Linked DNA regions of Homo sapiens: all the other regions are reported to be linked to region 2. The links are microRNA targets in miRTarBase. Many come from high-throughput screens and were not tested one by one. Region 2 holds a microRNA gene; each other region holds the end of a gene's coding sequence. Distances are between the middles of the regions.
The links. Region 2 holds the annotated microRNA hsa-miR-548ao-3p (AAAGACCGUGACUACUUUUGCA, at 1,110-1,131, opposite strand). A microRNA usually pairs through its seed, bases 2 to 8, with sites in the 3' UTR of a target mRNA and lowers its output. Matches are read on the target gene's strand: a 7mer-m8 pairs with bases 2 to 8, a 7mer-A1 pairs with bases 2 to 7 and ends in A, and an 8mer does both.

Region 1: miRTarBase lists ZNF107 as a target of hsa-miR-548ao-3p. The part of its 3' UTR that is shown has no 7-base or 8-base seed match.
Region 3: miRTarBase lists TNFRSF10D as a target of hsa-miR-548ao-3p. Seed matches in the 3' UTR shown: 7mer-m8 at 2,582-2,588.

Annotation. Positions count from the first base shown.
Region 1 is chr7:64,708,293-64,711,551 of GRCh38, reverse strand. It overlaps ZNF107 (zinc finger protein 107), which reads right to left. Exons shown (of 4, transcript NM_001282359.2): 4 at 1-3,259. The coding sequence ends at 2,896. Among named protein-coding and RNA genes, the nearest start is that of MIR6839, 31 kb to the right of the region's middle.
Region 2 is chr8:41,269,956-41,273,214 of GRCh38, forward strand. It overlaps MIR548AO (microRNA 548ao), which reads right to left and starts at 1,188; the gene lies at 1,093-1,188. The region is part of intron 2 of SFRP1 (secreted frizzled related protein 1); the gene reads right to left. It also overlaps the pseudogene RPS29P2.
Region 3 is chr8:23,135,321-23,138,579 of GRCh38, reverse strand. It overlaps TNFRSF10D (TNF receptor superfamily member 10d), which reads left to right. Exons shown (of 9, transcript NM_003840.5): 8 at 320-392; 9 at 577-2,992. The coding sequence ends at 710. Among named protein-coding and RNA genes, the nearest start is that of TNFRSF10D, 27 kb to the left of the region's middle.

The sequences.
Region 1 (3,259 bases), not on the chromosome of region 2:
GAATTTTCTCATGGTTTATTTATACTTGTATATAATTTTTATTATAACCATAAAATGACCCTGTAGTAACGACTGTACATTCTAAAGTATCTAAAAGTGCAGAATTGGTTTGTAATACAAAGGAGAAATGCTGGAGTTGATGGATACATCTTTTGCCCTGATGTGATTAATACATAAAATTATATGCCTGTATCAAAATATGCCATACATGGCATAAAGATATACACATACTATGTATCCACAAAAATTAAGAGAAATAAGTTTAAATTTTAAAAAGAATAAAAATCTAACCTATGGGAACAATATTCTTTATTAGCAGTTTAAAGTCACTAGCAAAAATAATTATTAGAGATGTTAGCCCATTATGTTATCAAGTAGTATACTGTTACCCTCTTTTACCTAAACCCTTGAGTAATGTGGGATAGGTAAAGTCAGTGGCATGAAAACACTTCATTGAATGCACAATAGTTTTAACATGTTAAAAAAAGTTTAATTAAAAAACTAAGTTCACGCATAATCCAAAAATTTTTAAACACATTGCATTTTATTACATAAAAGTACAAATAGTAAAATGATATACTACTAATTCACTTTAATTTTAACTAAGATTAAAAATGGTTTTCTCTTACTATAATGCAGAAGAATATTGCTCTGAAAACCTACTTCATGGATCACTCAATATTATAAGTTAAACACAAACAGCCTCTTCACTCAGGTTTTCATCATGCATCTTACATTTTAATGTCCTTATTCTTTCATAGAAAGTGTCATAAATAATACCGACCTAACAGAAATGATTTCTCATATCTTTGATGCATGAAAAATTAATCACATGCTTTCACATGTGAATACAATAGGAATGAAGAGCATGAATTTGAGTTGAATTACATCATTTGCTTTTCAAAAACTAATTTTTCAAGAAAAAATATAATTTGAATGTAATTATACATCTACAAAAAAATTCTACTTCTTTTAAAGTTATATACACATTATTTACCTACCAACTTTAGTTTTAAATTATTTTCTATACTCAGCATTCTGATTCTATACTCAGCAATGTCTGAAGTGTCAGTACCTTAGATATTTCTACTGTGAATTCTCTGATATTTATATAGACTTAATTTTGGATTAAATTATTTTTATATTTACTTCACTTGCAAAAATATATTTTAGTATGAGGCCTCTGGTATTTTCTAAGCTGTAGTTTTTTAAAAAATGTTTTCACAAATGCATTACATTTACAGTGCTTTTCTCCAATATAAATTTTCTGGTGTTGAACAACATTTGAGCAACTGCTTCATGGTTTTCCTCTAGTGCAAAATGGGTACAAAAGTATCTGTGATACAAGTAAAGGTACTACAACCCTCTTCGTATTTGTATTGTTTGTCCTCACAATGAATACTCTTTTTTTGTTTTGTTTTTGAGACGAAGTTTTTGCTCTTGTTGCTTTGGCTGGAGTGTAGTGGTGTGATTTCAGCTCACTGCAATCTTCGCCTCCCAGGTTTGAGCAATTCTCCTGCTTCAGCCTCCCAATTAGCTGGGATTACAGGGGCCTGCCACCACACGCAGCTAATTTTTGTAAAATTTTTAATAGAGATGGGGTTTTGCTATGTTGGCCAGGCTGGTCTCAGACTCCTGCCCTCAGGTGATCCACCCACCTTGGCCTCCCAAAGTGCTGGCATTACAGATGTGAGCCAGCACAACTGGCTCCTCTTCTTCACTTTAAAGGCTTATATTTTCTGAAAGATCTCTTGACAAAAATTGCATTTATAATGCTTTTATTACGTACTAACTCTCTAATGTTGAGTAAAATCTGAGCAGATAATAATGGCTTTTCCACATTCCTTGTATTTGTACAATCTTTCTGAAGTATAAATGCTTTCCTGTGCAATAAGGGGTGAGCATTTATTAAAAGTGTTGCCACATTTTTTACACTTCCAGGAGTTTTCTTCAGTATGGATTCTTACCTACAATCAAGTGTGACAACCATTTAAAGGCTTTGTGATATTTTTCACATTTCTAGGATTTTTCACCAGTATGATTTATGTTAGAAAGTTCGAGGTGTTGTCAAAATTATTGTCACATCATTCAGGTTTGTAAAGTTTTCAGTATTATCTTATGTTTAGTGAGGTTTGAGGATTGGTTTAAAGTATTGCCACATTATTCACATTTGCAGGGTTTCTCTCAAAGTATAAACTGTCTTATATGTAGCAAGGTGTGAGGACCAGTTAAAGGCATTGCCACGTTTTTTACATTTGTAGGGTTTCTTTCCAGTATAAATACTCTTACATGTAGTAAGAGTTGAGAATCAGTTAAAAGCTTTGCCACAGACTTCACATTTGTAGGGTTTCTTTCCAGTATGAATTTTCTTATCTACAGTTAAGGGTTAAGGAAGGTTAAAAGCTTTGCCACATTCTTCACAATTGTAGGCTTTCTCTCCAGTATGAATTTCTGTATAGTAAGGTATGAGGATTGGTTAAAAGCTTTGCCACATTCTTCACAACTATAGAGTTCCTCTCCAGTATAAATTATCTTATGTGTAGAAAGGTGTGAGGACTGATTAAAGGCATTGCCACATTCTTCTCATTTGTATGGCTTTTCTCCAGTATGAATTACCTTATGTTTAGTAAAAGTTGAGGATCAGTTAAAGGATTTGCCACATTTTTCACATTTGTAGGATTCTCTCCAGTACGAATTTTCTCAACTTTCAGTAAGGTTTGAAGATTAGTTAAAAGCTGTGCCACATTCTTTACATTGTAAGGTTTCTCACCAGTATAAAATACCTCGTGTGTGCAGAAAAAGTTGAAGACTTGTTAAAGGCTTTAACACATTCTTCACATTTGTAGTTTCTCTCCAGTATGAATTTTCCTATGTGTAGTAAGCTTGTAGGATCAATTAAGTTTTGCCATACTCACATTTGTAGGGTTTCTCTCCAGTATGAATTTTCTTATGTGTAGTAAGATTTGAGGATAGGTTGAAAGCTCTGCCATAATCTCCACATTTGTAGGGTTTCTCTCCAGTATGAATTATCTTATGTATATTAAGAGATGAGAACTGGTTAAAGGATTTGCCACATTCTTCACATTTGTAGGGTTTCTCTGAAGTATGAATTTTCTTATGTGTAGTAAGGTTTGAGGATTGGTTAAAAGCTTTGCCACATTCTTCACATTTATAGGGTTTCTCTCCAGTATGAATTTTCTTATGTGCAGTAAGGGTTGAGGATAGGTTAAAAGCTTTGCCACATTCTTTACATTTGTAA
Region 2 (3,259 bases):
CCAGGCAGCCCAGTGTCAATGAAGACCACAGGGTCCATTTAAATGGAGGAAACACCCCTCAACCCTAAGTGCCGAAGAGCTTAAGAATGAGTCTGAAACTAGAGCACTTCACTGGGTGATTAGGGGGCCACGCCAACCCATAGGAGGCCAGGATCTGGAGTGGTGAGGGCAAATTCCAGAGAGCAAAAATCCAATGGGAAGGGAAAAGAAGAGAGAAGCCATATCACCAAGCTTCTGGACTGAGTGCGAAGGAGCACTTGCAGGCACGCTAGCCACATGGATTAGACTGAGCCCGTGCAATCATTCCCACTCTTCTTGAAGTCAGTTTAAAATTAGAGTCAAAAAAACAAGTTATAAACACATGCAAGAAAGTGGTAAAGGAAAAAAGAACATATCAACATTTTGTATGACAGAAAGCAAATGGATGGTAGAATCTGGCTTAAAAGGGAGAAGAAAAGCTAAAATGCAGATAGGGATGCCAGTAAAGTGCAGAGAAAAGAAGAAAAAGAGGGACAGACAGGGATGCCAGTAAAAAACAAGCCCATTTGCACTCCAGGTCCCACAAATGCTCCTGATTGGGGCCCCCGGACACTCCTGAACTCCATCACAGAGGCTGTCAATGTTGGGATTGGCAGCAAGTTTACATATGGACACTCAAACCTACTCCCCTGGGCCATGAGTCCAGGTGGCTGCCCTCACCAACTCCAGCAGTAGCCATGGGCTTCATTCCATACAGAAGGCCTGTAGTTCCAGCTACTTGGGAGGCTGGAGGTAGGAGAATCGCTTGAACCCGGGAGGTGGAGATTGCAGTGAGCCGAGAGCGCACACTGCACTCCAGCCTGGGTGACAGAGCAAGACTCCATCTCAAAAAAAAAAAAAGAAAAAGAAAAGAAAAGGGGGAAAAAAAGAAGGCCTGAACCTGCACACAGCCTGCCGCTGGGGTATACTAGACACAGAGGAGGACCGGACAGGTGCTGCTGCGTGAACACCAAAGGGTTACATGAAAGTCTGCAAAGTGAAGAATGAGACACTCGGGTCTTAGAACACTACATTTATATGCCTGTGTCAGAGGATTGAGTGGTTTTTCTCTAAAGAAACTATTAGGCTGTTGCAAAAGTAGTCACGGTCTTTGCCATTACTTTCAACTGCAAAAACCGTAGTTACTTCTGCATCAACCTAAGAATAGTTCAAAAGAAAAGACATATGGGCCCTCTGCAAAATTCTCAAGTGAGGCCTAACAAATCACAGGCCCTGCATGTACACAAAGAGCTTCCAACGTCATGTCTCGCTGTTAAATTCAAATGGACAGTCAAGGGCTGGCAAGTATTTAAGGAAAGCCTCCAAATGTGAATGGCAGAGACTGTAACATACAAAACAGAAAAGGAAGAAAAGGAATTCAGAGATAACAGAGACAATGCAGGGAGTATTAAAAAAAAAAACTTTTCACTTTTTGCCTTGTTGCACTCCTAAAAGCAAGATGGGTCACCAGCAGCTCTCCTGGAGCCATCCAAAAAAATTCGGCCAGGGTTCTCATTCTTGTCATTATGGCCTCAATATGTGCTGCCAGTGTTTCCATCAGTATGCAGAGGAGGTAGGCTTCATTAGGTTAGACTAAGTGAGCTTCCCTGAATGGATTATCCAAGGCATCCACCAAGTGAAAGAAACCATGCTAGCTCTCTGTACATAAAATAAAATTTTAAAAAAAAAACTTTAAAAAATGATAATATGGCCAGGAGTGGTGGCCCGCACCTGTAATCTCAGCACTTTGGGAGGCTGAGGCAAGCAGATCACTTGAACCCAAGAGTTAGAGACCAGCCTGGGCAATATAGTGAGACCCCATCTCTACCAAAAAAAAAAAATTAGCCAGGCATGGTGGTGCATGCCTGTAGTCCCAGCTACTCAGGAAGCTGAGATGAGAAGATCAGCTGAGTCTGGGGAGATTGAGGCTGCAGTGAGCTATGACTGCACCCCTGCGCTCCAGCCTGGGTGACAGAGTGAGACCCTGCCTCAAAAAAAATTGTTTTAAATGATAATAAATTAGATAAGACTTTTGTATTCCTAAAACAAGAACAGAAAGCTATTAAAAGGAATGTTCAGAGACTGGGAAAGATTACTTGGAAATTTAAAATATAAGAGAAGAAATATAAAATGCAAGACAAGTAAAAAGATGTGAAAGAAAGGAAATAAATATGCAGTACACTACATGGCTCAGCTGCAAATAATATTTACATAATTCTAATAAATTAAACATTCAATATTAACCAAAAGTGTGATGTAATTATATTGGAAAGATAGTGTAAAAGAGATAAATCTTTAACTTCAATAACAGAAAATCAATAAATAATGGTTTTAAGATAAGGTTAAAGAGGCCAGGCACGGTGGCTCACGCCTGTAATCCCAGCACTTTGGGAGGCCAAGGCAGGTGGATCACTTGGGGCCAAGAGTCCAAGACCCGACCAGCCTGGCCAACGTGGCGAAACCCCGTCTCTACTGAAAATACAAAAATTAGCCTGTGTGGTGGCATGTGCCTATAATTCCTGCTAATTGGGAGGGTGAGGTAGGAGAATTGCTTGAACTCAGGAGGCAGAGGTTGCAGTGAGCTGAGATTACACCACTGCACTCCAGCCTAGGTGACAGAGCCAGACTGTCTCAAAAAATTTTTTCAAGAATATTTTTTAAATTTTTTTTAAAAGATAAGGTTGAAGAAATTTCATGAAAAGATGAACAAAATGACAAACAGATGGGAAACAGAGGAAAGAAAAAGAGAATCAATCCAAGAGTTTCAACATCTGAGAAAAGGGTATTATAGCAAGAGAGAACAAGAAAACAAACGGCAGAAAATACCAAAGAAATAATACAAGAAAACTTTCCAGAAATGAAGAACATGAGTCCTCAGGTTAAACAACACCCAGCTCAAAGAATCATGACATTTACAAATATGAAAGACAAAAAGAACTTTTAAAATCTTCAAGAGAAAAGGGTAGACATCTAATACAAAGGATCAGTATCCCAGTTGCACTGGATTTATCAATACAGACACTGGAAACTGGAGGATAATGAATCAATGCCTTTAAAATTGCCAAATTTGATACTGAGGCAAGCTATCAATCAGCATGCAAGAGTAGAATGAAAACATCTTCAGGCATTAACAGGTTTTAAAACATCATCTCCCATGTATCTTTTCTTAGGAAACTACTCAATGATGTGCTCTACAAAAATGCAGAATTTTTTTAATTTATAAAATGTATTATCAGCCAGG
Region 3 (3,259 bases), 18 Mb from region 2:
GAGTTGATTAGATGGGGCAGAAGGGGACTTTCTGGGGTGTGGCAGTTTCTATGTCTTGATCAGGGGATAATTACACAGGCCTATAGTCAAAGTTGGTCAGAACACTTACAAAGTGAGCATTTACTGCATGTCACTTATGTCTCAATGAGCCACCAGCACACAGAGCCCAAGAGCTATGGAGGACCAGAGGTTTGTCTCCATCTCCATGGAGACCCAAGAGGGAAAGCGCTGCAGGTCTCTTGCTGGCTAGTGGTCAGGGTCAGTACTAGACTGCAGGACTCCTGACTCTGACCAGAGCATTCCCCACTGTGTGTTACAGGAACAGGCAGAAGCTGAAGGGTGTCAGAGGAGGAGGCTGCTGGTTCCAGTGAATGACGCTGACTCCGCTGACAGTAAGTGTTTTGTGCCTTGAGACGCAGCAGGAGGACAGGGAATAGGGACGGTGTCCTAACTGCTGTCCCTATAGCTGAGAGGGCTCTTCTGGAGGTTTCACTGCTGGAAGCAGGGGGCCCCATGTCGATCCTGTGCTGATCGTCCTTGGAGCATTGAGACCCTAAATCTCTTCTCTCTTCTCAGTCAGCACCTTGCTGGATGCCTCGGCAACACTGGAAGAAGGACATGCAAAGGAAACAATTCAGGACCAACTGGTGGGCTCCGAAAAGCTCTTTTATGAAGAAGATGAGGCAGGCTCTGCTACGTCCTGCCTGTGAAAGAATCTCTTCAGGAAACCAGAGCTTCCCTCATTTACCTTTTCTCCTACAAAGGGAAGCAGCCTGGAAGAAACAGTCCAGTACTTGACCCATGCCCCAACAAACTCTACTATCCAATATGGGGCAGCTTACCAATGGTCCTAGAACTTTGTTAACGCACTTGGAGTAATTTTTATGAAATACTGCGTGTGATAAGCAAACGGGAGAAATTTATATCAGATTCTTGGCTGCATAGTTATACGATTGTGTATTAAGGGTCGTTTTAGGCCACATGCGGTGGCTCATGCCTGTAATCCCAGCACTTTGATAGGCTGAGGCAGGTGGATTGCTTGAGCTCGGGAGTTTGAGACCAGCCTCATCAACACAGTGAAACTCCATCTCAATTTAAAAAGAAAAAAAGTGGTTTTAGGATGTCATTCTTTGCAGTTCTTCATCATGAGACAAGTCTTTTTTTCTGCTTCTTATATTGCAAGCTCCATCTCTACTGGTGTGTGCATTTAATGACATCTAACTACAGATGCCGCACAGCCACAATGCTTTGCCTTATAGTTTTTTAACTTTAGAACGGGATTATCTTGTTATTACCTGTATTTTCAGTTTCGGATATTTTTGACTTAATGATGAGATTATCAAGACGTAGCCCTATGCTAAGTCATGAGCATATGGACTTACGAGGGTTCGACTTAGAGTTTTGAGCTTTAAGATAGGATTATTGGGGCTTACCCCCACCTTAATTAGAGAAACATTTATATTGCTTACTACTGTAGGCTGTACATCTCTTTTCCGATTTTTGTATAATGATGTAAACATGGAAAAACTTTAGGAAATGCACTTATTAGGCTGTTTACATGGGTTGCCTGGATACAAATCAGCAGTCAAAAATGACTAAAAATATAACTAGTGACGGAGGGAGAAATCCTCCCTCTGTGGGAGGCACTTACTGCATTCCAGTTCTCCCTCCTGCGCCCTGAGACTGGACCAGGGTTTGATGGCTGGCAGCTTCTCAAGGGGCAGCTTGTCTTACTTGTTAATTTTAGAGGTATATAGCCATATTTATTTATAAATAAATATTTATTTATTTATTTATAAGTAGATGTTTACATATGCCCAGGATTTTGAAGAGCCTGGTATCTTTGGGAAGCCATGTGTCTGGTTTGTCGTGCTGGGACAGTCATGGGACTGCATCTTCCGACTTGTCCACAGCAGATGAGGACAGTGAGAATTAAGTTAGATCCGAGACTGCGAAGAGCTTCTCTTTCAAGCGCCATTACAGTTGAACGTTAGTGAATCTTGAGCCTCATTTGGGCTCAGGGCAGAGCAGGTGTTTATCTGCCCCGGCATCTGCCATGGCATCAAGAGGGAAGAGTGGACGGTGCTTGGGAATGGTGTGAAATGGTTGCCGACTCAGGCATGGATGGGCCCCTCTCGCTTCTGGTGGTCTGTGAACTGAGTCCCTGGGATGCCTTTTAGGGCAGAGATTCCTGAGCTGCGTTTTAGGGTACAGATTCCCTGTTTGAGGAGCTTGGCCCCTCTGTAAGCATCTGACTCATCTCAGAGATATCAATTCTTAAACACTGTGACAACAGGATCTAAAATGGCTGACACATTTGTCCTTGTGTCACGTTCCATTATTTTATTTAAAAACCTCAGTAATCGTTTTAGCTTCTTTCCAGCAAACTCTTCTCCACAGTAGCCCAGTCGTGGTAGGATAAATTACGGATATAGTCATTCTAGGGGTTTCAGTCTTTTCCATCTCAAGGCATTGTGTGTTTTGTTCCGGGACTGGTTTGGCTGGGACAAAGTTAGAACTGCCTGAAGTTCGCACATTCAGATTGTTGTGTCCATGGAGTTTTAGGAGGGGATGGCCTTTCCGGTCTTCGCACTTCCATCCTCTCCCACTTCCATCTGGCGTCCCACACCTTGTCCCCTGCACTTCTGGATGACACAGGGTGCTGCTGCCTCCTAGTCTTTGCCTTTGCTGGGCCTTCTGTGCAGGAGACTTGGTCTCAAAGCTCAGAGAGAGCCAGTCCGGTCCCAGCTCCTTTGTCCCTTCCTCAGAGGCCTTCCTTGAAGATGCATCTAGACTACCAGCCTTATCAGTGTTTAAGCTTATTCCTTTAACATAAGCTTCCTGACAACATGAAATTGTTGGGGTTTTTTGGCGTTGGTTGATTTGTTTAGGTTTTGCTTTATACCCGGGCCAAATAGCACATAACACCTGGTTATATATGAAATACTCATATGTTTATGACCAAAATAAATATGAAACCTCATATTAAAAAGGTGTGGTGTTCGTTTATTTCCATCCTCCTCTCCTGCTGTGACACAGCTCTGAGTGACAGGAGGCCAGGGCTTCGTTCCTGCTGGGCCTCCTTACTTGTCCCTTCTCTGCCTTCAGGCTTGGCCCGCCTGGCGGTGGGGGTGTGGGGGGAGTTTCCTGCCTATGACTCCCTGGATTTTAAAGGACCAGGTTCTTGGCTACTGGAATTCGCGCCTCCTCCCTGTTTCTCTCCTGTCTGCTCCTCCCTCTGGGGAGAGGGACAGCAGCC